6 separate regions of the Homo sapiens genome follow, and regions 1, 2, 3, 4 and 6 are each linked to region 5. The links come from fine-mapping of genetic effects on gene expression. A gene starts in region 5. Each other region holds a variant in brackets. All regions are shown on one strand. Distances are from middle to middle.

The links. PIP is the estimated chance that this variant, and not a neighbour inherited with it, causes the effect. A credible set is the group of variants that fine-mapping cannot tell apart.
Region 1: its variant is the best candidate, but not a certain one, in a credible set for the expression of VPS13A in caudate (GTEx, PIP 0.88).
Region 2: its variant is the best candidate, but not a certain one, in a credible set for the expression of VPS13A in visceral fat (GTEx, PIP 0.57).
Region 3: its variant is the best candidate, but not a certain one, in a credible set for the expression of VPS13A in ileum (GTEx, PIP 0.50).
Region 4: its variant is the best candidate, but not a certain one, in a credible set for the expression of VPS13A in visceral fat (GTEx, PIP 0.52).
Region 6: its variant is the best candidate, but not a certain one, in a credible set for the expression of VPS13A in whole blood (TOPMed, PIP 0.76).

What each region holds. Positions count from the first base shown.
Region 1 is chr9:77,141,234-77,146,311 of GRCh38, forward strand. No RefSeq gene overlaps it. Among named protein-coding and RNA genes, the nearest start is that of VPS13A, 34 kb to the right of the region's middle. The variant C/T (reference allele first, on the strand shown) is at 3,093.
Region 2 is chr9:77,284,923-77,290,000 of GRCh38, forward strand. The region is part of intron 31 of VPS13A (vacuolar protein sorting 13 homolog A); the gene reads left to right. Among named protein-coding and RNA genes, the nearest start is that of VPS13A-AS1, 110 kb to the left of the region's middle. The variant G/A (reference allele first, on the strand shown) is at 2,568.
Region 3 is chr9:77,382,738-77,387,815 of GRCh38, forward strand. The region is part of intron 68 of VPS13A (vacuolar protein sorting 13 homolog A); the gene reads left to right. Among named protein-coding and RNA genes, the nearest start is that of GNA14-AS1, 62 kb to the right of the region's middle. The variant A/G (reference allele first, on the strand shown) is at 2,130.
Region 4 is chr9:77,409,349-77,414,426 of GRCh38, forward strand. The region is part of intron 71 of VPS13A (vacuolar protein sorting 13 homolog A); the gene reads left to right. Among named protein-coding and RNA genes, the nearest start is that of GNA14-AS1, 36 kb to the right of the region's middle. The variant A/G (reference allele first, on the strand shown) is at 2,130.
Region 5 is chr9:77,174,661-77,179,738 of GRCh38, forward strand. VPS13A (vacuolar protein sorting 13 homolog A) reads left to right here and starts at 2,874. Exons shown (of 72, transcript NM_033305.3): 1 at 2,874-3,144. The coding sequence starts at 3,045. VPS13A-AS1 (VPS13A antisense RNA 1) reads right to left here and starts at 3,257. Exons shown (of 2, transcript NR_026668.2): 1 at 2,967-3,257; 2 at 2,096-2,246. RefSeq lists silencers at 2,502-2,831, 2,593-2,887, 3,870-4,039 and an enhancer at 2,593-2,887.
Region 6 is chr9:77,319,279-77,324,356 of GRCh38, forward strand. VPS13A (vacuolar protein sorting 13 homolog A) reads left to right here. Exons shown (of 72, transcript NM_033305.3): 42 at 294-395; 43 at 1,891-2,049; 44 at 2,213-2,468; 45 at 3,789-3,949. Among named protein-coding and RNA genes, the nearest start is that of GNA14-AS1, 130 kb to the right of the region's middle. The variant T/G (reference allele first, on the strand shown) is at 2,923.

The DNA.
Region 1 (5,078 bases), 33 kb before region 5:
GATAAAAAAAAAATCTATAGTTGATGCCAATGAAATGTCACAAATGAGGTCAAATAAACTAGGAAACCACCCGAAACTCCACTATGTAAGGCAAGAGAACATTGAAGGAAGAAAATGAATTGGAACTGAGAAAAATAATAGTAAAACTCTATAGGATTAATAAATTATCAGCATTGTTTGTACTATAAATGTTCAGCAAATTGCAATCAACCCTGGAGGAGTTTGTTGTAGAAAACGTGTCTTAACTCTGAACCCTATATTCACATGTGGCATGTACTTCTCTTTTCACTGGACACAAATATGGCTTTTATAATCAGAAGAAGGTAACTTCCTACACAGTTGACATTTCCAAGCATCATTTATAATTCACAGGGACAGATTTTAGATTGAATCAGTATGTATTATCTCAAATCTGCATTACCTAGTCGAAGTTCTGTCATGGGACTCATTAAGGGATATAACTGAGAACAAGATTTTGAATTGTGTCTACAAGTAAATGAATAAAATGTTAATATTTCATTAATGACTGCTAAGTTCTCATGGGTTCTATTGTACTCACTATAAAATGTATAGTGTTTGCCAAAATATATGATCTTATTCTTTGAATAGTTTATTTTACAGATATAGAATCTGAGGCTTAAAGGAAAATTGGCAAAATTGGAACTAGCACCTATGCCTTCTCTTTGTAAACCAAGTAGTGTGTTATTCATCAAACTATGCCAATATCCGGAAAATCAGGGCTCCACCCTGCCTGTTTCTAGAAGCACCCTTCCACTTCTATCCGGAATGGATCTTCAGTCCCTACATTCATGATGGCTGTGTCTGGTGCTTGCTAAAGTGTCTGTTCTGATTGATTTCTTTTTTTTTTTTGAGACGGAGTCTCGCACTGTCGTCCACACTGTAGCGCAGTGGCACGATCTTGGCCCACTGCAACCTCTGTCTCCGGGGTTCAAGCAATTCTCCTGCCTCAGCCTCCCAACTAGCTGGGATTACAGGCACCCACCACCACACCCAGCTAATTTTTTGAATTTTTAGTAGAGACAGGGTTTCACCATGTTGGCCAGACTGCTCTCAAACTCCTGACCTCAGGTGATCCACCCGCTTTGGCCTCCCAAAGTGCTGGGATTACAGGCATGAGCCACTGCGCCCAGCCCTGACTGATTCTTAATAATTTGAATATCACCCTTGATCAATACAAACCTATTCAGTACCAGATTTTCAAGATTGCTAAAGGTAGTCACGGGGATTAAATCCATTCTGAAGATTGATGGCATAATATGAACATTAGTCAAGTGACTTACTGACATGTGCTTAATGAAAGCTATAACTGTTGAATAACTGAATAAACATTGGACATTAGCCATTGTTTGGACTTAGTATAGAGTAATTTTTTATGGGAAAGACAATGTAATAGCAGGATGTAGACAACTTAATCCCCAGAATAAAAGATAGCTATCTTAATCTGATGGTATATGTAGGCCTGCAATTATATTTTAATAGTATGCTTTATTCAGTTTAGATAGCTATAAATATCTTTCCTTGTCTCTACACAGTTTGTCTAATCAGATTTCAGTGACTGCATACTATGCTAATGGATATAGATTTGATTTTAACTATGACATTACCACTTTAAGATTAAATGTAATGGTAATAATGCTTTTGGTAAACTCACGTTTGAGTTTATATGATACAAGCCATTAAAATATTACTTTTTTTTTCAATGAGTTATTATTTTGATGATTTAGGCTCCTGAAAGTCTTGTAATTCTAAGGTGTGAACTAACTTAATTTATCTTGGAAAATGTGAAAATGTTCCTTGAAGGTACAAATTACTTTCACAATAAATACCAAATGATTTTGATTTGCTTAACATAAAATTTAAATCAATATGTTACATGCTTTTGTAGGGAATATGTCTGTCTATACATTATTTCTGTGGACAATAAGGAAAAGATTCCAACTTTGGAAAACTAGAATATAATGAGTTTGGAATAAAAAAGTAAAGCCCTATTCACGGCCATTGTGTTATTATGTATGATATAATTTTCACAATCAAAAAATACCATTTGGATATTCATGCTATCATGGTTGTTTGGTACTTTGACTGCTGCCGCTGTTTCAGCTCAGACAAGAGTGTGATTTCATCCTGAGGTCAAATCCCATGCAAGCACGATTTATCGAAGCAAAATTTCATCTCACAAAAGCGTAATGCATTCTGCCAAACCTGTTCATGCCAATGCAGGTCATTTAATATATAATTGGCTGCAGCTGGCACTCACACAAGCTGTGACATTTTCTATCAGCAACAGGGTAGTATTTGGAATGCCAAAGAAACAATTACATGCTGCAGATGAGAGCCTGAAGTGGAAAAAGAGGAAATGCAGTATTAAAGAAACCAGCCCTTTTCCATTTCAAAGAGGTAGTGAGGAAGCTACAGTACCTGTCATTCTACTTTCTTCTATAAAATGTGAGAAGTGAAGAAAAGAGAAAATATTGACTTGGGAAATAAAGGATGAAATCATTTGGGGTCTTCTGTTTAGAGAAGGCAAATAAAATAAAGAGAGTATTAATTAAAAGGACCCAGAGACCACTTAATATTAAGGAAAAATGGCATTGACTCATAAAATGTCCTTCCGTTGGTAAATAAAGGAGAGAGAAAAAAACTGAAAGATGAATGGAGGAAAAAGGAATGAAAGAAATAAAGTAAGAGAGGAAGTAATCCTTATAAAAAGAAAATAGACCAGGAGAATTTGGGAAAATAGAAACCTAAATAAAAAACTGTAGCATCAGTAGATTACTTTAAACGCTTGTTTTCTCTAGTAGTTAAATGTAAAATAATATAACAAGGATACAAAATTTTGGGGTCACCCATTAGCAAAGATTAAAAAGAAATTTAATATCCAGTTTGGGCAAGTATGTGGAAAAACAGTCTTGTACACTGCTAGTGGAAATATAAATAAATAAACTGTGTGTGGAACTAATGGGTAAAACTTTATTAAAATATTCATACCCATTGACTCAACAATTCCCCTTGGCTGTGCATGGCAGCTCACGCCTGTAATCCCAGTACTTTGGGAGGCTGAGGGAGGAGGA[C/T]TGTTTGAGCCCAGGAGTTTGAGACCAGCCTGGGCAACATAGGGAGATCTGCCTCTCCAAAAATTAAAAAATTAAAAAATAGGTGGTTGCAGTGGCACATGCCTGTGGTCCTAGTTACTTGGGAGGCTGAGGTGGATTGCAACAGAGCAAGACCCTGTCTAAAAAACAAAGAAACAAACAAAACAAAATAAAACAAAAATCCTTATAGGAGAGACACATATAAGTATGAAAATATATGTATACAAGGATATTCTCTGCAGAATGGTTTATGGTCAAGAAAAATTGAAAAACAACCAAAATAAGCATATGACATTTAAGTTCATCCATACAGTGAAATGCTATACATAAGCTAGAAATAATTAATAAAATCATATGTTAATAGAATGTCCAATATATATTAAGTGAAAGTGCCTACAGTAGTAGTAGTAATACTAATAATGAGCATAATAAAAAGTTAATATTGTATGATTCCAACTATATGACATTCTGGAAATGGCAAAACTATGAAGACAGTAAAACAATAAATCAGTGGTTGCCAGAGGTTAGGGGAAAGGGAGAGGTGAATAGGCAGAGAACAGAGGATTTTTAGGGCAATGAAATTATCCACTATGGATACTTGGATACAAGTACATTCTACATTGTATCTTGATATATCTAGAAGATATAAGATACAATGCATCTTGTATCTGCATTGTATCCTGTATCTCAGTGTACAGAGCTGGATCTGCAATGGTGGATACTTGTCATTATACACTTGTTAAAACCCATAGAACCTACGACATCAAGAATGAACCCTAATGTGTATATGGATTTGGGGTGAGAAGGATATATCAATGTAGAATCATGGACTGTAACAATGTACCACTCTGGTGGGGGATGTTGATAGTGGGGAAGGCTGTAGGGGAAGGAACATGGGAACTCTCTGTACTTTCCACTCAATTTTGCTGTGAACCTAAAACTGATCTAAAAAAATAAGGTTTACTGAAAATTTTTAAAAATTAATATTTATCCAGTGGTATGATCACAGCTCACTGCAGCCTCAACTTCTCTGGCTCAAGCAATCCTCCCACCTCAGCCTCCAGAGTAGCTGGGACTACAGGTGTGCACTATCATGCCCAGCTAATTTTTTATTTTTTTTTGGAGACAGGATCTCTCTATGTTGCCCAGGCTGCTCTCAAAATCCTATACTGAAGAGATCCACTCACCTCAGCCTCCCAAAGTGCTGGGATTACAGGTGTAAGCCACCACATCCTGCCAAGAACTTATTTTTCATGTCGTGCTAATCCGTTTATAGCATTATCTCATTTAATTCTCACAAGAATTTTATTACATAGGTAGTATTTTTATCTGCAGATGAGGAAATCTGAGACTTACAGAGGTTAAATAAACTGCCCAAAGATGCTCATAAGAGACAGAGCTGTGTCTGAAAAGCAGATGCTCCTGGCTCCCACATCCAGGCTTTCCACATGGGGCATGGGACTTACTGGGCTCCCAAGACCAGGTCTTGTGTAGATTCTCAAAGTCCAGATTCCCAAAGTATAAACAATCCAGTTTTAGAAGAATTATCTTACTAAATGCATAGGAAAAAATACAGAGTGTTGGCCAAACTGTTAACATCCTTTATTAAGGAGAAACTGTTGGATTGTATTACATTCTGTTCATTTCTGCAAGGTTTGTAATTTTTTATAACAGCACTTACTTCTCTATAAAAAGAACAAAAACCAATAAGTTTAACAAAATGCATAATTTTTTTTTCTTTTTTTGAGACAGAGTCTCGCTCTGTCCCCAGCCTGGAGTGCAGTGGTGCCATCTCGGCACACTGCAACCACCGCCTCCCGGGTTCAGGCAATTCTCCTGCCTCAGCCTTCCGAGTAACTGGGACTACAGGCGCACACCACCACGCCCAGCTAATTTTTGTATTTTTAGTAGAGATGAGATTTCACCATGTTGGCCAGGATGGTCTTGATCTTTTGACCTTGTGATCCG
Region 2 (5,078 bases), 110 kb after region 5:
TCAAACTCCTGGCCTCAAGTGGTCTGCCTGTCCCGGCCTCCCAAAATGCTGGTATTACAAGCATGAGCCACTGTGCCCGGCCTGTAATTTTATTTTTAATATATCTACAAGGTTAAAAATTCAGTTTACAGAAAGTTACAAAATAAAAAAAATCTTTCTCCTTGTCTTCTTGCACGATTTTCATTTCCCTTTCCCTGTTTCTTTGATTCCATTGTACATGGTTTTTAAACAAACTGCCTTGTTTAGTAACTTTCCACGTGTCAAAGAACCAGAGAGGCATAAGGTTTTTGCCCTTATGAAATCAGACCTGATTATGAATCAGTTTCATAAGCCTTGTACAGCGATATATATTATTGTGCCAGTTTTAAGTGTACTGAGACATTGAGGCCCTCAACTTTAAGGGTGGGAGCCCCCAGACCATTTGTTTGACTCTGTCTTGGAGCAGCATCCTCCATTTACTGTAGCACCATTGGACAAATACTGTTTTTATTTATATATGCCATAAGGTAAAAAGGATTCTTGCTGACCTGATAGTCTCATGAAAAACATATCATAGTAAATTAGTTTCTGATATCTTCTTCATAAAAAATATTTTGAAAGTAAAGGCTTAAAAAAATCCAATTTTTAATGCTTAATTCTTGGTGATGGGTACACAAGTCTTTCTAATTATTCTCAACTTTTCTGGCCTTGTTATTAGGCCAACACTTGCTTCATGAAATGAGTTGGGAAATGCTTTCTTCCTGTTTTCTGAAAAATTTGTATAGAATTTGCATTATTCCTTAAATGTTTGATGGAATTATCAGTGCAAATATTTTTTGTGTATAGTTGAGTCTGGGATTCACTTTATTTTATTTTCCATATGGCATTCAGTATCCAAAGGAGATCCACACACTGCATTTGATTGATATACCACTTAAGTCTGTTATAGTTTATGAATTTCCTTTAGTTTCTTCTCTGCCCTTGTGTTAGCCATTTGTTGCTATCTTATTTATTCTGTACAATTTTCCATAGCCTGTATCTTGCTGATTATGTTTTCATGCTATTTAACATGTTACTGTATCCTGTGTTTCCTTAAATCGGTATTTAAATCTCAGGGCACAGTGAGATTCAGGGTTTGGGAGTAGGGGTTGGCAAGATACTTCATAGTTGGTAGTGTGTGTTTTCATAGGAGGCACATAGTGTGTAGCTGTCTTTTTTTTCTTTTCTGTTTTGCACTGTCTTGGAATATTTTCTTTTTTTTATGTTAGAAGCTATTTGTTGTTATTTCCTGTAATTTGGTCTTGAAGTCTGTGTCTGGAGAGTGGCCATAAGCCAAAATAGCCACTTTCTAGCTTGCAGGCATGTTGGTCAGATGGGACATCGGGGAGGCAACACAACAAAACACCCTCGAGGGGTGCCCACCAGGGAGGCTGACAGGAAGTCTGGAGGCAGTAGGGACGTTTCTTCATTTATTAAATGGGAGAGTTCACCAGTCTTTATGCTGGTATCACCAATCATTTTGGCTTTTCAAAAGTTTATTCTCCAGTAGATTTCTTAGGCAGGGCTCATAGGAACAATAATCCTTATTTATATTTGCAGGGTAGTTTGACTGGATTTTAAATTCTTGCCTTGAATTTTCTTTTCTAGATGATCTTAAAACATATTACTCCATGTCTTATGGCCTAGTATTGGTGTTGACAGTTCTGATGACAGTTTGACTTTCTTTCGCTTCTAAGAACTTTGCCATTTTCCCCAGACATTCAGAGCTAATTTGAAGCTTTATGTAGGGACTTTGGACAGGTAGACATCACAGTTGATGGTCAGGAACTGGTCTAGCAATTTTATGGGTTCTCAGATTGAGAGTATCTCTTGTTCTTAGGCTAGTTAGTTTCCGTTGAGAAAAATACTATTAAGTATAAGCCTGGCAGCCTACATTCCAGAAGCCAATTGGTTGAAAGAAGTGGAGGCCTCATCATTTAGTTTATAGATTTTTGCTTAAAATAACCACTTTTTAACATGGTGTTTTATTAACCGTCTTTCTGTACCTGAAGTCTCCTAGACCACAGCCTTTCTGCTCTAAACTCTGTCGAGCAAATCTGTTCTGTTGAACTCGGAGAGGAACAGTCATATAGTCCTACTCATGTGACATGCAGAGGCTATTCGGTTTATTCTAAACTAATTTACCAGTATTTATATAATTATATAGATACAATTTATACATTAATATATATGTAAATTATATATGTATAAATACTGGTAAATAAATTAAGAAAAAACTAATTATATATATTATATAATAATATATTTTATATATACATAAAATTCTCTCTCTCTCTCTCTCTCTCTCTGTCTCCAATCACACAATCACAGCTCACTGCAGCCTCGACCTTCCCTGGCCCAGGTGATCCTCCCACCTCAGCCTCCTGAGTAGCTAGGACTGCAGGTGTGTGCCACCAGGCCCAGCTGATTTTTGTAGAGATGGGGTTTCAACATTTTGCTCAGGCTGCCCTCAAACTCCTGAGCTCAGGCGATCTACCTGCCTCGGTCTCCCAAAGTGCTGTGATTACAGACATGAGCTGAGCCACAGC[G/A]CCTGGCCTATTTGAGATACTATAGTCAGCAAAAGATAAAAAGCCCTTCTCCACGTGGAATAAATAGTAGTTAATCAGTAATATAAAACAATATTAGAGAGTGATATGTGCTTTGAAAACCAAGAAAGCAGGGTAATGTGACAGGTAATAATTCACGTGGCGTATTAGGATTATCAAGAAATGCTTTTTTACAGTAGAAACATTTGACAGAAATCTGAGCTGTGGATTTGAGCCCTGTTGAAAGAGCTTTCCAGGTGGAGGAAAGAGCAACTATAAAAGCCTTGTAGCAGGAAGGTGCTTGCTATATTCTGGGAGGTTTTAGGGCCCTCAGTAACCTTTGGGTAGAATTATTTATTAGTTTCTGTTTTGGTTTAGTTTTTACTTTTTAAAGTAAGATTTATTGAGACAATTTACCTATAGTAAAACTTACCTCTTTTAGTTATAATTCTGTGAGTTTTGACGAACATATACTGTTGTGTAACTTACCTTCAGCATATACAATGGGTCTGTCAACCCTAAATATTCACTACTGCCCTTTGAGGTTAGCCCTTCTCCCCATCCTAGCACCTTAGAATCACTGCACTGTTTTTCGTTCCTGTAGTTTTGCAGTTTCCAAAGTATCAAATAAATGGAATCATGCAGTTATGTAGTCTTTCACGTTTTTTTTTCTTAGCATGTGAGATTATAATTTTTGTCTTTTTATGTCTTGATCAGCCTGGTTAACGATGTATCGATTTTATTGATACTTTGAAAGAACTGGCATTTGTTTCAATTGAATGTTCTCTGTTTTTAATTTTATTTATTTATGCTCTTTTAAGATTCCTTCCTTCTGCCTGCTTTGGATTTAATATGCTCTTCTTAAGGTGGAAGTTTAAATTATTGATTTGAGAATGTCTTTCTGTTGTAAGCATTTGCTGCTATAAATTTTCCTTTAAGCACTGCTTTAGCTGCTTCCTGTAAGTTTTGATATGTCATATTTTTATTTTCATTCAATTCAAAGTATTTTCTAATTTCTCTTCTGACTTTCTTTTACCCATTGTTTATTTAGAAATATGTTATTTAACTTCTAAATATTTTGAGATTTTCAGATCCCTTTCTGTTACTGATTTCTAGTTTAAATTCATTATGGTCAGGGGAGAAACCGTTTCAGTTCGTTTAAATTTGTTGATGTTTGTTTTATGGCCCAGAACATATATGATTAATCTTGGTGAATGTTTCAAGTGTACTTGAAATTAATATGTGTTTTGCTGGGTTGAATGTTCCATTTGGGCAAGTAGGTTGGTGGATAGAATTATTCAGGCTACTGATTTTCTGTTTACTGGTTGTGTTGAAGCCTCTGATTATAACCATTGATTTGCCTGTTTCTCCTTTCAGTTCTTTAAGTTTTTTGCTTTGTATGTTTTGGAGATCTCTTGTTAGGTACATATAAATGTGTATGAATTTTATGCCCCTTTTGTGATTATGTGATGTGTCTTTTTATCTGTGGTAACTGTGCTTGTTCTGAAGTCTACTTTGGTAGTAATATAGCCATTCCAGGTTTCTTCGGTTAGGTTTGAATGGTCTATCTTTTTCTGTCCTTTAGCTTTTAATGGATGTTTTCTTGTTTAAAGTGGGTTTCTGTTTTTTGATGCAAAGTCTCACTGTGTTGCCCAGGGTGGTCTTGAACTCCTGTGTTTAAGCTCGCCTCAGCCTAAGTAGTAAGTAGCTGGGATTATATGTGCATGCCACCACATCTGGCTTAAAATGGGTTTCTTACAGTCAGTGTATATTTAGATCTTTCTTTTTTATCTAATCTGACAATCTCTTGGCTTTTAATTTGTGTTTAGACTATTTTATAAAACTAATTATTGATATGATTGGATTGTAATCTGATATCTCTAATTGTTTTCTGTTCTCTAATTTTGTTTATCCTATTGTATTCCTCCTTTTGGCCTGATTTTTGATTAATTATCATTTATTTTATGGTTTCTCTAGGGTTTACAATGTATATATCTTTAATCATAGTCTATCTTCCAATAATATTTTATTGTTGTACATATAGTGTAAGAATCTTACAATACCATGCTTCCAATTCCCATTTCCTATCTTTCTTGGTATCATCATAATTTGCTTTACTTTGGTGCATGTTGAAAACTCACAATGTGTACCTATTGAATTTGGTTTAGTCAGTTTTCTTTGGAGCAATTAGTTTTCTAAAGATGTTTTATATTTTTCTTCATTGCAACTCTTTCTGTAACTACTTCATGTAGTTTCTGTCTATTGTTTGTATTTCTCTCTGAAATACTTTCTCATTTCTTTTTTTTTTTTTTGAGACAGAGTCTTGCTCTGTCGCCCAGGCTGGAGTGCAGTGGTGCAATCTCAGCTCACTGCAACCTCTGCCTCCGGGGTTCAAGTGATTCTTCTGCCTCAGCCTCCCAAATAGCTGAGATTACAGATGTGTGCCACCACACCTGGCTAATTTTTGTATTTTTAGTAGAGATGGGGTTTCACCATGTTGGCCAGGCTGGTCTT
Region 3 (5,078 bases), 210 kb after region 5:
TCTAGTGTAGTCTTTATAAAACTTGTGGGATTTGATAAGCAGTTCACATGCAAACCAGTATCTTTTAATAATACAAAGTAGCATCTGGAACAATAGACAGTTTGAAGTTAGAATCTGCTTAGACAACTTTCTTACTTGGTAAATTCGACTTTTTAAAACCTGGATTATGCTGTAGGTAACTAGTAATCATATATAGGCTATACCAGTGTCATGTTGTTTCTGTGGTTTAGAGGTGGAATACTAAATTAAATCATTTGTTTGAAAACAAACAAGGAATCATTATGTTATGTAGGCTTGCAGATACTCATGGTAGCAATAAACTGTTGGAATATGAAGCTTCCTTTATGGCTTTAATATTTTAAATATTGTGATATTTAATGTGATCAGAGTAAAGATTTAAACTTCAGTATTTTACCTATTGCAGGGCATATAGTATTGCATAAAATATACTTCTAACTCTTTCTCTGAGGCTTCTAATATACAAAAATGTAACCATAGAGTTAATATGCAATATTTAGTTAAGTGATTTTATACTGTATTTAAAATGTTTTTGAAGCATCAAAATCATTGTATATTGGGATAGAACTGGTAATCTATTAAGAGGTTGTGCTCTAATGGACAGATTGTGCAGTCTCTACAATGACAGTGTATCGTTCTTTGGAAGATAGTAAATTTGCAGAAGTCACCCATGGCTGATACAGTCAAAACATGTATTTCTACCCAATACCTGCCTTCCCTTGTTAGAACGCATTTAACAAGTTACTAACATTTTACTAGACTAAAAATCAAATATAGTACGAAGTAAGGATGAGTGTTGAGGAGAGTTTAGGAATATATCCTCATTATAAGTGAGCACGTTATGATACCCACAAGGAAGCCATGAGATACCAATAATTTCTCATGGTTGATAATTTGATTTTAGTGAAGCTTCTCATTGTTTTCTGAAGCTTTAAACTTTGAGATGTAAAAACATGACTTTTGACTGTGTACTTTTAAAGATACATATTTATTTTTAATAGGTCAGTCTCATCATTAATCACTAAAAGAGCTATTTAAATGACTAAAAACCACAGCACTTGTCAGCCATTACTTGTTTTTCAGCAAGCATTTACACAGTATTAGCTGAAATATTTGTAGGGATTCACCAAGTACCTTGGGATGTTGCAGTTAGCATTTTTTTCTTACAGGTATAAAAAGTGGATTGTTGTTTTGATGGTGGTGGGTTTTGTTTTTTTTTTTTTAATCAAAGCTCTAGTGTATTATTAGCAAACACTTAAAAAATATGTAAATACCAGTACTGTGGAAAATAATTAGATGACACATAAACTGGATTTAAAATCCATCTCATCTGCCTAGATTTTATGTAAGTGATATAATGAAGGTGCCTTAAAATATTTGATACTTTCAAATGTTTCTCATGTTATTTTCTTATTTTCTAAAAAAGATGTATTCACTAAATTATATACACTCATATAATAATTAAATATAAAATACATTCTTTTATTGTGTACCTTTCTATCTAGAAGGTAGCACATTATTACAGTGTTTCCTGCTGGTCAAAGTTGCCTATTAGAGAAATAGAATGGTAATTTTAATATATTCACAAAATACCTTATTGATATCATCAAACCAATTTATACATTGAGTTTGTACCAACTAGTGGAATTGTCTTAGGTCTATTAAGTTATGGAATATTATATCCATAATTACAGTCTGAGTCATAGCTGAAAAAATCTGCTTTAAAATTATTCTCACTCTTTGAACATTTCATAATCTTACATGTTTTCAAGCAATTTGCCATACTCTACTAACCTTTGTGCTTCTTTTTTCCTTTGCCATGCTTACAGAAAATTCAATTCTACAGGGAGTGGATTATGACTCACAGTAGCAGTAGTGATGATGATGATGATGATGATGATGATGATGAGTCAGATCTAAACCATTAAAATTCATATGTTCTTTATTTTACTTGGAATGTTTCATTAACATGTTTTGTATGACTTATACCATAATGCCCATATGTCCATTTATAGGGAGGTAAAACACATTTTCTTTTAAAATGTTTTCCTACACATTTTCATAAAGCAAAATAATTGTATTATTTAAGCACAGAAAAAAATGTATCTTAC[A/G]TCCAAAGTAGGGAGGGCATCCAACATATTATAGATTTGCTTTTATATATTTTATAGCTTTGTATTGCATAGTTTGTCTTTAAGAGTTCAAGTTAGACTTAAATATAATTTTGATGTTCACTGGTTTTATTTTAAATTGCCTTCTTATTTGTTAGCAAAATGCCTTTTTTTAATGGTCTCTGTAAATTTTCTGGGCTTTAATGTAATGCCACTGTGTAAAAAAAAAGGAAGAAAATAGTAATAGCCATTTAATGTTTTATATTTATCATTTTAAAGATATTTTTGTCAAATTTCTTTTAATAATAATAAACATATGTAATCTAAAGGAGTGTGAATTTGTTGTTCTATCCCCAAATCATATAGATTGAACTGCTATTATAAAAAACAGTCATGGCCTCTCATGGAAGAGTAGATAGTAAAATAATTTATAGTCTGAGAATGAAAAAGACCGTTCTTTTATGTCTTTGCTTTACTTTTTACCGTTTTGTTTCACATATTTTTTGTGAAACAATGAACAAAGTTGGTTTTAATAGTCATTATATTCACTTATTAATTTGTATATGCATCTACTATATTTCTATTATGAATTCAGAATATTTGGAAACTTCTATCGTAAACATAACTATATATATTTTTTCTGTGTAATATTAGGGAAAATGTTACATATATCTCTGAAAGATCCATTAGTAAATCTATTTTATGTTTTGTGTAATAAAGGTTTTTAAAAAAATTTCAACATAGATGAAACTGTCCTATTTCTCTAACATATCAGACGTACTTTAAAAAATTCTCTAAAAAGTATATGATCTTTGGTAGTTAGAATGTTTAATCCCTATGACTGCTGTGCTTTTGGATCAACAAAGGAATATTTATCTTGACTACAGCAGAAGCTCAGTATAAGCAACAGGTGATTTAATTTAACTGATTCAGCACATGATTTCTGAGTCTCCTCTAATTCTTAGGTTTATCAAGTTTTATTTCTATAAATCATTCTCTATGTTTTTTGAAAGTGACTACTTTAAATTTGAAAATATTGAGATTACTGCAAAAAAAACTGAAAAAAATCAGCTTTTTTGAAATTTCTTCCTATGCAGAATTCATTCAAATTAAATAGAAATCAAGGTTATGTATGTAAAATTTGTTTGAAAACAAACTTACTAATATGTAAACATCATAAAGTTGTTTTAAAAAACTGTTATGTAAACATCAAAAAATTCAATTATTGTTTTAATCACAGTATTTTTATCTTTTTAGAATAAGTACATACAAATAGTGACCATTAAAATAGTCATTGCTTTATTGGAAACCAACTTTGTATTTGTTGTGCACCCACTCCTCTCTCACCCTTGGCCAAAATCAAACAAAACTTACTGCTCCTTCTAAAATCTAGAAAGAATACTGCCTATTTTTGTATTTTGTATATGCTTAAGGAAGGAAGAGTCTGGAAGTTTCTTCATTGGCTTCTTACATTCCAACTTTGCTAGTCACAAGGCCTTTGTAAAAGAGACTGTGGAAACTACTTGTTTGCAAGACATTTCCCAAATTTACTGTGCTTGGCCTGTGACACTTAATTTCATGGAATGGGATTCATAAAGATGATCTTAACCTTTCATTCCTTAAGAATTTATCGGAAAAAAAAAAAGTTGTGGTTATCTTAGCAGTGATTTACCATTTTCATGAAAAGAAAATTGGAGGTAGGATTACATTTATTTAAAATTTCTTCAGTAAAAATATTTTAAATAATATGCTAGTAACTAGTAAACATTGCTTGTGTGGTCTTAGAGTTTCATCATTCTTCAGTTTTTAGCCCTTAGAGATGAGATGTGCTCTTTATTTTTTTTTTTTAATTTTTTTTTTTTGAGATGGAGTCTCGTTCTGTCGCCCAGGCTGGAGTGCAGTGGCGCGATCTCGGCTGACTGCAAACTCCACCTCCTGGGTTCACGCCATTCTCCTGCCTCAGCCTCCTGAGTAGCTGGGACTACAGGCTCCTGCCACCACACCCGGCTAATTTTTTGTGTTTTTAGTAGAGATGGGGTTTCACCGTGTTAGCCAGGATGGTCTCGATCTGACCTCGTGATCCGCCTGCCTCGGCCTCCCAAGGTGCTGGGATTACAGGCGTGAGCCACCGCACCCAGCCGAGATCTGCTCTTTGACAGTGTAATTGCCCTTGTTTTTCTGCCACAGTGAAATTATCTTTTCAAACCTCTTGAGGACAGGTATTAATTGTGTTCCAGTTTTGAAAAAAAACTTGAATTTTTCTCTAGTAAAAGCAAAAAAAAAAGACAGAATTGCTCTTTTGTTTTACACCATTGTTCTCTTGATGGAGATAGAGGATCTAGGCAAAAATATATTCTTATTTCTTATCAAATATATAGAAAATGAATTTATATTTGGATTTTAATAAGATGAACTCTTGTTTATCAATGGTTCTATAATTAACTAGAACTTTTAAAATGGTAGTATCTAACAGGAAAGTCTAGTGAGAAAGCTGTTTGAAAATTATGTAATGCCACACCTTTCCATATGCTTTAACTTCATTTATGTTCCAGATTTCTGCACGATCATTGCTTATGTATAGAAAATGGGAAGGAAGGTTCACTTCCCTGAAGGAGTGATTACCTGGAGATTCCTTATTTTCCTTTGTGTCTACCTGACGCTTGAATAACATATTGAAAACGGGCAGGAAGAAAAATTTGTAAAAATCTGTAATTGTGGACACTCATAACCATAGATAAATAATCTAAGCCTGTAAATGAAATTAATTAGTACTCACATGGGATATAAATAAAACAAATGTAAATTCAGAATAATATTGCCAATTTTCAGTATTATAGAAAAGGAAGTCAAATTTTGTTTCCTTATTTAAAATAATCAGTATTTTATAAATTTGTTTTTGAAACTATTCAAAACACATATCACTGATGCAGTGTTGAATGTTGATTTTAAGTT
Region 4 (5,078 bases), 230 kb after region 5:
AAAAACAGAGCAGAAAATCTGGAAACTCTAAAAATCAGAGTACCTCTCCTCCTCCAAAGGAACGCAGCTCCTCACCAGCAATGGAACAAAGCTGGATGGAGAATGACTTTGACAAGTTGAGAGAAGAAGGCTTCAGATGATCAAACTACACCAAGCTAAAGGAGGAAGTTCGAATCCATGGCAAGGAAGTTAAAAACCTTGAAAAAAAATTAGATGAATGGCTAACTAGAATCACCAATGCAGAGAAGTCCTTAAAGGACCTGATGGAGCTGAAAACCAAGGCACGAGAACTAAGTGACGAATGCACAAGCCTCAGTAACTGATGCGATCAACTGGAAGAAAGGGTATCAGTGATGGAAGATGAAATGAATGAAATGAAGCGAGAAGAGAAGTTTAGAGAAAAAAGAATAGAAATCAACAAAGCCTCCAAGAAATATGGGACTATGTGAAAAGACCAAATCTACGTCTGATTGTCATACCTGAAAGTGATGGGGAGAATGGAACCAAGTTGGAAAACACTCTGCAGGATATTATCCAGGAGAACTTCCCCAATCTAGCAAGGCAGGCCAACATTCAAATTCAGGAAATACAGAGAATGCCACAAAGATACTCCTCAAGAAGAGCAACTCCAAGACACTTAATTGTCAGATTCACCAAAGTTGGAATGAAGGAAAAAATGTTAAGGGCAGCCAGAGAGAAAGGTCAGGTTACCCACAAAGGGAAGCCCATCAGACTAATAGCTGATCTCTCAGCAGAAACTCTACAAGCCAGAAGAGAGTGGGGGCCAATATTCAGCATTCTTAAAGAAAAGAATTTTCAACCCAGAATTTCATATCCAGCCAAACTAAGCTCCATAAGTGAAGGAGAAATAAAATCCTTTACAGAAAGGCAAATGCTGAGAGATTTTGTCACCACCAGGCCTGCCCTAAAAGAGCTCCTGAAGGAAGCACTAGACATGGAAAGGAACAACCGGTACCAGCCACTGCAAAAACATGCCAAATTGTAAAGACCATCAAGGCTAGGAAGAAACTGCATCAACTAACGAGCAAAATAACCAGCTAACATCATAATGACAGGATCAAATTCACACATAACAATATTAACCTTAAATGTAAATGGGCTAAATATTCCAATTAAAAGACACAGACTGGCAAATTGGATAGAGTCAAGACCCATCAGTGTGCTGTATTCAGGAAACCCACCTCACATGCAGAGACACACATAGGCTCAAAATAAAGGGATGGAGGAAGATCTACCAAGCAAATGGAAAACAAAAAAAGGCAGGAGTTGCAATCCTAGTCTCTGATAAAACAGACTTTAAACCAACAAAGATCAAAAGAGACAAAGAAGGCCATTACATAATGGTAAAGGGATCAATTCAACAAGAAGAGCTAACTATCCTAAATATATATGCACCCAATACAGGAGCACCCAGATTCATAAAGCAAGTCCTTAGAGACCTACAAAGAGACTTAGACTCCCACACAATAATAATGGGAGACTTTAACACCCCACTGTCAACATTAGATCAACGAGACAAAGTTAACAAGGATATCCAGGAATTGAACTCAGCTCTGCACCAAGCAGACCTAATAGACATCTACAGAACTCTCCACCCCAAATCAACAGAATATACATTCTTTTCAGCACCACACTGCACTTATTCCAAAATTGACCACTTAGTTGGAAGTAAAGCACTCCTCAGCAAATGTAAAAGAACAGAAATTATAACAAACTCTCTCTCAGACCATAGTGCAATCAAACTAGAACTCAGGATTAAGAAACTCACTTAAAACCACTCAACTACATGGAAACTGAACAACCTGCTCCTGAATGACTACTGGGTACATAACGAAATGAAGGCAGAAATAAAGATGTTCTTTGAAACCAACGAGAACAAAGACACAACATAGCAGAATCTCTGGGACACATTCAAAGCAGTGTGTAGAGGGAAATTTATAGCACTAAATGTCCACAAGAGAAAGCAGGAAAAATCTAAAATTGACACCCTAACATCACAATTAAAAGAACTAGGCCGGGCACAGTGGCTCACGCCTGTAATCCCAGCACTTTGGGAGGCCGAGGCAGGCGGATCACGAGGTCAGGAGATCGACACCATCCTGGCTAAC[A/G]TGGTGAAACCCCGTCTCTACTAAAAATACAAAAAATTAGCCGGGCGAGGTGGCGGGCGCCTGTAGTCCCAGCTACGCGGGAGGCTGAGGCAGGAGAATGGCATGAACCTGGGAGGCGGAGCTTGCAATCAGCCGAGATGGCGCCACTGCACTCCAGCCTAGGCAACAGCAAAACTCCATCTCAAAAAAAAAAAAAAAAAAAAAAAAAGGAACTAGAGAAGCAAGAGCAAACACATTCAAAAGCTAGCAGAAGGCAAGAAATGACTAAGATCAGAGCAGAACTGAAGGAAATAGACACAAAAAACCCTTCAAAAAATGAATCCAGGAGCTGGTTTTTTGAAAATATCAACAAAATTGATGGACCGCCAGCAAGTCTAATAAAGAAGAAAAGAGGGAAGAATCAAATAGATGCAATAAAAAATGATAAAGGGGATACCACCACCGATCCCACAGAAATACAAACTACCATCAGAGAATGCTATAAACACCTCTATGCAAATAAACTAGAAAATCTAGAAGAAATGGATAAATTCCTCAACACATACACCCTCCCAAGACTAAAGCAGGAAGAAGTTGAGTCTCTGAAGAGACCAATAACAGGCTCTGAAATTGAGGCAATAATTAATAGCTTACCAACCAAAAAAAGTCCAGGACCAGATGGATTCACAGCCGAATTCTACCAGAGGTATAAGGAGGAGCTGGTACCATTCCTTCTGAAACTATTCCAATCAATAGAAAAAGAGGGAATCCTCCCTAACTCATTTTATGAAGCCAGCATCATCCTGATACCAAAGCCTGGCAGAGACACAACAAAAAAAGAGAATTTTAGACCAATATCCCTGATGAACATTGATGCAAAAATCCTCAATAAATTACTGGCAAACCGAATCCAGCAGCACATCAAAAAGCTTATCTACCATGATCAAGTGGGCTTCATCCCTGGGATGCAAGGCTGGTTCAACATATGCAAATCAATAAACATAATCCAGCATATAAACAGAACCAATGACAAAAACCATATGATTATCGCAATACATGCAGAAAAGGCCTTTGACGAAATTCAACAACCCTTCATCCTAAAAACTCTCAATAAATTAATTAGGTATTGATGGGATGTATCTCAAAATAATAAGAGCTATCTATGACAAACCCACAGCCAATATCATACCGAATGGGCAAAAACTGGAAGCATTCCCTTTGAAAACTGGCACAAGACAGGGATGCCCTCTCTCACCACTCCTATTCAACATAGTGTTGGAAGTTCTGGCCAGGGCAATCAGGCAGGAGAAGGAAATAAAGGGTATTCAATTAGGAAAAGAGAAAGTCAAATTGTCCCTGTTTGCAGATGACATGATTGTATATCTAGAAAACCCCATCGTCTCAGCCCCAAATCTCCTTAAGCTGATAGGCAACTTCAGCAAAGTCTCAGGATACAAAATCAATGTGCAAAAATCACAAGCATTCTTATACACCAATAACAGACAGAGAGCCAAATCATGAGTGAACTCCCATTCACAATTGCTTCAAAGAGAACAAAATACATAGGAATCCAACTTACAAGGGATGTGAAGGACCTCTTCAAGGAGAACTACAAACCACTGCTCAGTGAAATAAAAGAGGATACAAACAAATGGAAGAACATTCCATGCTCATGGATAGGAAGAATCAATATCATGAAAATGCCCATACTGCCCAAGGTAATTTATAGATTCAATGCCATCCCCATCAAGCTACCAATGACTTTCTTCACAGAATTGGAAAAAACTAAAGTTCATATGGAACCAAAAAAGAGCCCACATCGCCAAGTCAATCCTAAGCCAAAAGAACAAAGTTGGAGGCATCACGCTACCTGACTTCAAACTATACTACAAGGCTACAGTAACCAAAACAGCATGGTACTGGTACCAAAACAGAGATATAGACCAATGGAACAGAACAGAGCCCTCAGAAATAACGCCGCATATCTACGACCATCTGATCTTTGACAAACCTGACAAAAACAAGAAATGGGGAAAGGATTCCCTATTTAATAAATGGTGCTGGGAAAACTAGCTAGCCATATGTAGAAAGCTGAAACTGGATCCCTTCCTTACACCTTATACAAAAATTAATTCAACATGGATTAAAGACTTAAATGTTAGACCTAAAACCATAAAAACCCTAGAAGAAAACTTAGGCAATACCATTCAGGACATAGGCATGGGCAAGGACTTCATGTCTAAAACACCAAAAGCAATGGCAACAAAAGCCAAAATTGACAAATGGGATCTAATTAAACTAAAGAGAGCTTCTGCACAGCAAAAGAAGCTACCATCAGATTGAACAGGCAACCTACAGGATGGGAGAAAATTTTTGCAATCTACTCATCTGACAAAGGGCCAATATCCAGAATCTACAATGAACTCAAACAAATCTACAAGAAAAAAACAGCCCCATCAAAAAGTGGGTGAAGGATATGAACAGACACTTCTCAAAAGAAGACATTTATGCAGCCAGAAGACACATGAAAAAATGCTCACATCACTGGCCATCAGAGAAATGCAAATCCAAACCACAATGAGATACCATCTCACACCAGTTAGAATGGTGATCATTAAAAAGTCAGGAAACAACAGGTGCTGGAGAGGATGTGGAGAAATAGGAACACTTTTATACTGTTGGTGGGAGTGTAAACTAGTTCAACCATTGTGGAAGTCAGTGTGGCGATTCCTCAGGGATCTTGAACTAGAAATACCATTTGACTTAGCCATCCCATTACTGGGTATATACCCAAAGGATTATAAATCATGCTGCTATAAAGACACATGCACACATATGTTTATTGCGGCACTATTCACAATAGCAAAGACTTGGAACCAACCCAAATGTCCAACAATGATAGACTGGATTAAGAAAATGTGGCACATATACACCATGGAATACTATACAGCCATAAAAAATAATGAGTTC
Region 5 (5,078 bases):
GAGTGCAATGGTGTGATCTTGGCTCACTGCAACCTCTGCCTCCTGGGTTCAAGCGATTCTCCTGCCTCAGCCTCCTGACTAGCTGGGATTACAGGTGTGTGCCACCATGCCTGGCTAATTTTTTTTTTTTTTTGTATTTTTAGTAGAGACGGGGTTTCGCCATGTTGACCAGGTTGGTCTCGAACTCCTGACTTCAGGTGATCCACCTGCCTCGGTCTCCCAAAGTGCTGGGATTACAGGCATGAGCCACTGTGCCTGGCCTTAAGTAAGATTCTTATAAGGTTTTTACCTTTTTGCTTGTATTCCCCTTCCAGTGAATTTTTCTCTTTTTATTAAGGATTGGAACACATGGTCTAAAGAATTTTTTTTTTTTTTTCACTGTGTCACCCAGGCTGGAATGCAGTGGCACCATCATAGTTTACTGCAGCCCCAAACTCCTGGGCTCAAGGGATCCTCTCACCCTTGGAGTAGCTGGGACTACAGGCATGTGCTACCATGCCAGGCTCCAAATAACTTTTTATTGTTTAAAATTTTTAAAGCATAAACAGATGGAGCACAGGGCTCTGTGAAGTTAGATCAGTAAAAGTCCCATACCTATAAAACGGCCATCTTCTACACTTGTTCCTCCAGGACATCTTCTGCTTCAACAGCTTTGTGGTCTGCTTCAACAGCTTTGTTATCTGGCCATCTAGCCTGCTACCACAATGCCCATGGGGAATGATAAGGACAAGCAGCCCACCAATGACATTTACTTGTGGACAAAAGAATTAAGATTAGGAGAAAAAAAAATTCCAAGATTACTACCAGTACACCAAAACTTTAAAGACGAAGAGCTGTGGCATGGAAGGTATACATAAAACTGCAAGTCCTACTTGCAAAGTTAGAGATTTATTGTAAAGTTAGATGATATTGCAGTTTGGGGTCATTCAGATGCTCTCCCCCTCTTTTGTTTTTCCATTTGATCAAACAATGAAGTATAGCATTTTAATTGTGATCTAGAGAAAGAATAACATACACTGACATACTTCCTAATTTGAAACTCGAGTTTTTATGGTAGTCATTGGGCTTATTTTTCAAGGTACAACAGAAATTTGGTTTAATGGTTTAATGAGCATACCTTTTACATGATGATGTTAATATATTTTTGCTTACAAACTTCCTTAGATGGATTAAGCAATGCAAAGACTGAATGCAAAATGTTGTCTTTTAGTATTTACAAAGCATGTTCATATACATCTAACACTAGATAAGAATTCGGTTACAATATGCATCCACTTATTTCTAACTCTTCCTCAGCAGAATTTTTTTTCATTGCTTTATGCTTATACCTCTAACTTTTCAGCAACATCCCTTCCCCTTCCTCACTTCCACAAAATTTTCCTAGATCGTAGAAAACTAATATGAAAACGTTTGCAAGATACTTAAGATGGATTTTTGGAGTTCTGGAAATTCTTGTAACTTTGAATTTGCAGCGCTAGATATAACAGCGGAATTTTGCAGCTACTGTGTATCTGGCTTCTTATTAATAGTGCAATGGCAAAATGCCTCATTATGTAGAGCTCTTCCCCTTCCTAGGCATTTTAGCCTCTATTCGTTTCTCCGTGCAGGTATTCTGAAGCAGACTGTTAGCTGAATGAGAGAGAAGCAGGTGGGGTGGTAGCCAATCAGAAGGGCCAAGTTCCAGTTCTTCCACAGAACATTGGTTGTATGACCTTGCACACATCCCTAACACTTCAGCTTCATTATATTTAAGACTAGGAGGTTGGAGACCTCATAAAGGTCCTTCAAATATAAAATTATATGAAAAACATTCATAAACTCAGGTAAAAACTTACAGTTTTTGTCAGGCATTCTACTTGCAAAGGCACACCCTAAACATTTAATTTTGAAAAGTCGGTGACTATGCACAAAAAGTAGTAAAATGACACAGGAATTAATAGAAATCCATCATTATTCATTTAACGTGTAAAGAGAAAACGCTCAATGTACACTTTTTCGGTCCTGCAGATGATTAATTACAGTTCTCTAAACCTCACATTTAGCATCTCTGTGACCTCAGGCCTTTGGGATTACTTCTAAGTAAGACCAAACAGGTCGAAAGATCTGTAATTGTAATTTATTTTAGGTCAGTGGTTCGGTGGAGGCATAGGGGTCAAGGGTCCAGCACTCCCAGTATTTCTTGGAGGGTGTTCAGCAGTTTCCAGACCGGCTGACTCCAACTCTTATCTGCAGGGAAGCGTGTTACTCTTTGGAATGAAAGACAGCTCCGTATAAATGACTTGACCAAAAATGGGTGCTCATCTCAGATGCAGGGCAGGGACTATGTAACTCCATCCTCGACTCGCAGCAGGAAGTTAACTCCTCCTGAGAGCCAGGCGGTCGGAGGACCAGGCGGGGAGGTTACAGGCACCAAGACACCCAGGCTGGCTGGACCCTCCCACCCTGTAATGATGAGGGGAGATGCTCCCTGGGACAGCCCCCTTGAAGCTTCTGGCGACGGGGCTGGGATCCGCCCACCCTTACTCAGGGGCGAGCCCTGTCATACGCGTGGAAGCGGCCACCACCTTCTAGGGGGAGGGGCGTTCCCGTCGGGCGTAACCGCCCCGCCCTGGGGGGCCGCTGGGGACGCTGATCTGCAGGAGGGGGCGGGGTCGGAAAAAATCCGGTAGCTCCAGACCGGTGTCCCGTTGCCAGGCGATGGGGAGGAGGCGGGGCCGACAGGAAAGAGGAGCCGGGCTCGGCGCGAAAAGGGCACCCTCCAGAGCCGCGGCCGCGCAGCCGCCTTTCCTCCCTCTCAGGGCTGCGCGCCCAGGTCTGCGCCGCGCTCCGCCTCCAGCCGCGCGCAGACTTGCGCACGCGTCGTGAGAGCGACCGCCTCCGTCTCTCGCTGGGCTCGCTAGGGCTGCGCGTTGGGCCAGCGGGGGCGCCGCAGCTGAAGCCGCCCCGGAGCCGGTGAACCGAATTACCTCGAGGGAGGGGCGTGGGGAAGGCGGCGGGAGGAGGAGCGCACGGGCCGGCTGCCGTGCCCACCACGGCTGAGGAACATGGTTTTCGAGTCGGTGGTCGTGGACGTGTTGAACCGGTTCTTGGGGGACTATGTGGTGGACTTGGACACGTCCCAGCTCTCTCTGGGCATCTGGAAAGGTAAGGAGGCCGCCGCCGCCGCTCCCCGGCCTCTCGTGCTTCCCGGCCGTCTCGCTGCCCGAGCGGCGTCCTGCGTTCTCGGGGCTTCGAGCACCTTGCTCGCCGGGTGCAGCCACCTGCCGCCGCCCGCCTGTGGGTCAAGTTACGTAAAGCCGGGCGGCAGTTCCCTGGCCTCCGCCCTCGAGTTGTTTATATTTTGGGGGAAAGGAGAGGGTCATGAGTGCGGGATGAAAAGGTCTATATTTTCCGAGCGGAGCGGACTTGCCGTGGGCTCCGTGGGTCTGGCGTTCAAGTCCCGGCGAGGGGCCGTTCTCTACCCCTGGCCCCGCACGGTCCGGCTTTAGCCGCGCGGGGCGAGGAGGCGAGACGACGCCTTCCTGGGCTGGGTCCCATCCCTGTCCTTTGCCCCCCTGGGTTTATGACGAAGGCCCCAGAAATCCCCCGCGTGTTGCATGCTGCCTCGCACGTGAAGGCAGGGCGCTGTGACCGGGGACGCCCGCTTCCTTGCTTCCCCAGCCTCAATTCCTGGCTTCACCCGTGGTGCTTTCTGCTCTCCCCCTTCCGGCCCTAGGACCCGGACGCCGGCTCTCTCTCGCCTGGGTTCGGCGGATAACAAAAAGGAAACTCAAGTGCAAAGTAACTCAAACAGTTGCTTGTGTGGTTGCAGTTAACAGCCTGACCTAGGAATGTGTAACATTTTCAAGACTTTAGGATATGTGGGTCAGAGTGAATTGCCGAATTTTAAAGAAAAACCAGGGCGTGCGGTGCAACGTCTCAGACCTGCAAAAGACCGGGCTGAACAGGGCCCTACGCTGCCTAGGTGGTGAAGGACCGAGCTTTCCTTGTGTCCGTTTAGTGTGGTATTCTGCCTTAGTGAGAGCCTCATTTTTAGTGTTTCCATCTGTTTTTGCATTATGCGCTTGTTTATTTTAAACACCCGCTAGAAATTAGACTCCTTTGTGAAATGAATTTCCCAGGCCAAAGTGAGGGTTAATTTTGTGTGTGAAGTGTGTGTGTTTAAATATATATTTAAAGTAATTTATTCTTGTCTGTGCACACACTTCCAGTCTTCTTCTAAAATACTTACCTTGACTCTTCTCGTTTATGAGATAATGTAAACAGGTAGTTTAGTTTGATTTTAAAGAATGTTACTACCGTGGGGACCTAGTATCATGATGGAGAGTGAGTGGACTACAAAAGCTAGGGATATAGTGATAGCTGCTCAGCCTGTTTGATTAGTACAAGAAACTTGCAGTCTGTTTATGCTGCTTCTTAGTTGCAAAGTGAAAATAAAATTTGTCTCCCATGTACCTCAGAAGGAAGCCTTAAGAATACTTGAGGTGAACTTTGATCTGTAGTGGAGTCTTGCTTCCACATTCAGGGTGGAGGTTTGTCTAGAGTGTGATTAATCAACTTATTTATTTGTTTAAAATTTACATGCAGTAAAATTCACTCTTGTGATACAGTTCTGTCTTGACAAATGCTAAGAGGCATGTATGCACCACCACAATAATGGCACATAAAAGGTTCATCAAGCCTCCCGAATTCTCTCAGCTGCTCCTTTGCAGTTGATCTCACCCCGCCACCACGCCCGGCTAATTTTTAGTAGAGAGGGGGTTTTGCAATGTTGGCCAGGCTGGTCTCAAACTCCTGACCTCAAGTAATCCGCCTGCCTCTGCCTCCCAAAGTGCTGGGATTACAGGCGTGAGCCACTGCGCCCGCCTGACTGTAAGTATTTATCTGTTTGCTGGTTGAAGAATATTTCAGTTTTTGGAGGTTATAAATAAAGCCGTCATAAACATTCACGTACGGGTGTTTGTGTGAACATAATTGTTATTTCTCTTGGATAAATACCTAAGAGTGGTTTTAAATTGGGTTGTACGTTTTTTTTTTTTTTTTGAGATTTATTTCATATACCATAAATTTCACTCTTT
Region 6 (5,078 bases), 140 kb after region 5:
GATAATAATCTCTTCTAATAGAAATATGAAGAATTAGAAATATATGCCTTATACTTTTATGTAATGTAGAATCAAGGAAAGATGCTTAAAAAGGGGTTTTATCTGGACTAAATTGTGAAGAGCGAATATGTACTATGAAGTTAGCCAGGTGAGGAAAATGCTGAGGGAGTGCTTATAGGAAGCTACTGAATGGCATGTAGACTGGTTTTTATATAGAAGAAATAACAGGGCTAAAAAACATGGTGGGAAACAGGATGGAAGATCATTTTTAATTTAAAAAATTCTCTCTGTAGGTGCATTATTATAATGAAATGTTTGGTGTATGGGAGCCTTTGCTTGAACCCTTAGAAATTGATCAGACTGAGGATTTTAGACCATGGAATCTTGGTATCAAGGTATATCTATATATGTCTATGTGTGTATATATATATATATGTATTTTAAAAGACTTTATTTTTTTAAGAACAGATTTAGGTTCACAGCAAAATTGAGAAGAAGGAACAGAGATTTCCCGTATACCACCTACTTCTGCACATGTATAGCCTCCCCCTTTATTAACATTCCCTCATCAACGTATATTTGAAGACTGAAAAAATTTTCCAAAATTGAGAATGTTTATACCACACTCGACACTTTATTTTAATCACAACAAGGTTCAGGTTGTCTCATCATGAGCCTTGCCCACATGCTTCCTTGTTTGCCCTCTGAATATAATTTTCAAATCTAAGGCCAATGTTGCCTATGCTTCTAATACAATTATGTAACAAGTATTATGTTACTTGTTACATAATTTAGAACAATTTAGAACATAATTTAGAACACAGTTTAGACATTGTTCTAAATATTTTAATCCTTACAACAACTCTTGGAGGTAGATACAGTTTTTATTTAACATGTGAAGGGACTGAGACCAGGGAGGTTAAGAGACTTCTTGAAGTAATAATAGCTACAAAGTGGAAAAGATGGGATGCAAATCCAGCTGCAGAGGCGTTAAATCCACTCTAAACCACTATGCTATAATGCCTGTGTCATCATCTTGTAGGTTGTTGTCTATCCTGAGTTTCCTTCATCCTTTGGATGTTTGCATGTGTGCAGGAATGTATATTATTTGTTTGAAATATATTGTGGATTTATATAATCATGAGAATCGGGGCCTTTAGGTGGATGAAATTTTGCTTCTGAAGCAAGAGACTGCAGAATTACTCACGTGTTTCCTACCTAATAATGACTTGGTCAACCTGCAGACAGATTTTCAGTGGCTTAAAGCCAGTTAAAGTAACAACAGAGGTGACTAGCTTAGCATGTTGAGCTCTTTTCATATTAGATCACTTAATTTTATTTTCCAGATATTTTAGATGAAGGATATGAAAAGGAATTCCTTGGTGGTTTTTAGGTTAGAATACACATGGTCAGCAGATCTGTGACTCCTAAAAAATGGTAAAGGGTATTGATTCTTATGAGCTCTAGGTTTATAACACTGTTCTGCTACTATTGTCTGCCTTTGTAAGTCTCTAGGTTTCTGTTCTTTATTATTAGCATGACCAATACATTAAGTTACTTTTTTCTGTCTGAGTTTTTATGTTGCTTTGAAGTATGTGCTTTTATATTCAGATCCCGGGTACACATAGTAATTTTAGGTTTTTATTTTTCCTTCTAAATTGTGTCTGCCATTTTACTATCACTGATGATGACATGATTTATTTTCTCTAATACTTCTGTCCTTTATGACCTTAGTTGGCTGATGTCCAAGTAATTTCAATAAGGCAATAGAACTTACTGAAATTAGAAAAGATAAAATGTACTGACCTTTCTAATGTTGGTATTGGGATTTGTCTAGTTATGTTGTGTTCTTAGAATTTTTCCTTATATTTCTATGATTTATCATTTTAGATGAAAAAGAAAGCAAAAATGGCCATTGTTGAGTCAGATCCTGAAGAAGAAAACTACAAAGTGCCAGAATATAAAACTGTCATCAGTTTCCATTCAAAAGACCAATTAAACATTACATTATCCAAATGTGGTCTTGTAATGTTAAACAATTTAGTCAAGGTAAGAAAAGAAATTTGAAACTTTAAATATTGAGATACTTGTCTGATTGATCTGTCTGTTGAATAAGAAGTTTAATAACTTAGTTGTCATTTGTCCTTTACTGTTCTCCTTGTCATTTAATTTTACACATTTCATTTTATTTAGCATAACTCTTTCTTATTAGGCATTTACAGAAGCTGCCACTGGATCTTCAGCTGACTTCGTAAAGGATCTAGCACCATTTATGATTTTAAATTCCCTTGGACTTACTATTTCTGTTTCGCCAAGTGATTCTTTTAGTGTACTCAACATTCCTATGGCAAAATCATATGTATTGAAAAATGGAGAAAGTTTAAGTATGGATTATATCCGAACCAAGGACAATGATCATTTCAATGCAATGACCAGCCTAAGCAGCAAACTCTTCTTCATTCTTCTTAGTAAGTAGTTGAAAAATTACCTTCCTGGGGCTATTTTGTTTTAAATTACAATTTACATGTTATTTTACTCTTTTGTAGAATCTTAGCAAGGTTTTTTTTGTTTTTGTTTTTGTTTTTTTAAAATATCCTTTCTAATAGGTCAAGAACTGTTTTTTGTCTTTGCAGTGTCTTGGTTACTATTGTTACTAAAACTTTGTATTCCAAACTCTTTCTTTATCCTCTGCATTATTTAGAGCATGGCAATTTACTGCTTTGTTGTTGGGAGGAAAAATATTAGATCTCGCCCTCATTCTGCTTTTATAGACCGTGGATGTTTAGATGTTTGTGGGGGTTCTTTTATTCACATTTGGTATCCGTTGATAGTATTCCACCAGTTTTGCAACTGAAAGAATTCTAAGTGTGAATTCATGCAGATGGCAATTTTTAATGGCTTTAGGATTTATAAATGGTTTTT[T/G]TTTTTTTATGTTCTGCCTGTTGAGATGAAGGTTTTTTCCTTTGTCTTTTCTGCTTCCCAAAAGTTTTTCATTTTTATTGGAGGTGAAATATATACATTCTTAAAGTATCATAATATGTAGTCATTGTGAAGTTAAATAGTCCCAGAGCCTCACCTACACCACTTTTTGATACTCTGGCATTTAAGTAATTATTGAGGAGGGCATCATTTAAAAGATTAATTAGACATAGGGGGGTAGGCTACTAAAATAGCTTGTGTTTCTAGTTAGAAAATAACATGTAACAGGTGTTTCAGGTGTTGTCATAGCGTTGTAATTAATGTTCTTATAAATTTTACGTCTTTTTTTTTAACATTTTTATGGATGGGATGGTAAATGAAATTTATGCAAGTAAGTAATTTTATCCCCAATACAACATGTGTTTTAGGTAAATATATATAAAATTTTATTTAATCAAGTCCAAGATATAAAGGAAAAGTGACACAAGTTGTTGGAAAAATTAAAAACAAAAATTGTAGTCACCTTGATATTTACCAATGTCTACCAAAAGGTATTATGCTCTGGTTATTCTGACAGCAAACCAGAGATCAGTATTCTTGTATTTTATAGTACTTGCTCTCATTACTCATTTTTGAAACGTTTGCTATTGTTGTCTTGGGTTAAACTCCTGAATGGGAGTTTTTTAATTAATGCTGTGGAAATATATGCTGGCTTCTTAAAATATCCCTTTTATGGACTATATCCAAAGACTCTAGTGACTATTATTTATAAGTTTAAGAATCATCTGAAATTTCTAATATGTAACATATGTAAAATTAATATGTAATGAATTATAATAAAAACTTTTAAACATACTTACTTAATTTAGCACCTGTTAACCATTCTACTGCTGATAAGATTCCTTTAACAAAAGTGGGACGACGTCTGTACACTGTAAGACACAGAGAGTCTGGCGTTGAAAGATCTATTGTTTGTCAAATTGATACAGTAGAAGGAAGTAAGAAGGTCACAATTCGCTCCCCAGTGCAGGTATGAAATGATCAATTTTGGGGGATGTCCTGTTATGCATATCTGTGTGCTAATAAAATTAAAAACAACAACAACAAATTATTACTGAAAGAATATAAACCGTAACAGTAATACAGCTGATATCAAAAAGAAGACTCACTACCACCAGTTGCGCTACTTGGTTATGACGGGTGGTAGGAATTTGTTCAATATACTTCTTATAATTTTTTAATAGGAATATTTTGTAAAATCTTCTTACGGTATTTTTTATAAATAGTCATCAGTGTTTTGCTTTAGGTCTTTGTAATGTATTTATATCCTTTCTATTTGATTAGATAATTTTTAGAGAAATAAAAAAATTTTACAGCTTTATTGAGGTATGTACAATAAACTGCATATATTTAAAGTTGATGACTTTTGACACAAAAATGCACCTTTGAAACTGTCATCACAGTCACGGTAATGAACATATTTATTTCTTAGAAAAATTTTCTGTTTCCCCACTTTCCCATTCCCAGGCATCCACTGATCTGTCCTCATTGTACATTAGTTATATGGCCTAGGATTTTACATAAGTGGAATACAGTACAGATGGAGTTTGACTTTCATTCAGAAAAATTTTGTATGTATGTGTCAACTTATGTGTATCCATGTTATTACATGCAGTTACTTGTTGTTGCTCAGTAGTAATCTATTATATGTATATGCCGCATAGCCATTTTGAGTGAACCTTTGTATACAGTGTGAAGTTAAGAATTGAGGTTTTGCTTTTTTTTTCACCATATGGATTTTTTTTCCAGAGGATTTTAGGTCCTTCTCATTTTTATATAAATTTGAGAATCAGATTATCAATTTTATAAAAAATCTGGATAAAATTGGCTTGTCCTTTAATTTTTAAATTCTGATTACTCATTGATAGTATTTAGAAATACAGGTTATATTAACCTCTACTTGCAGATTTAACTAGACTTACATATTCTAGTAGATTTGTGTAGATTTAGATAGTTATGATAGCTGCAAATGAAGACATTTTTACTTTTTCTTTTTCAATCTGGATGTGTTTTATTTTATCTTGTTTATATTGCCTATCACACTGGCTAGAATACAATTCGAGTAGAAGTGGTGAGAGCATGTTTTTGCCTTGTCCATT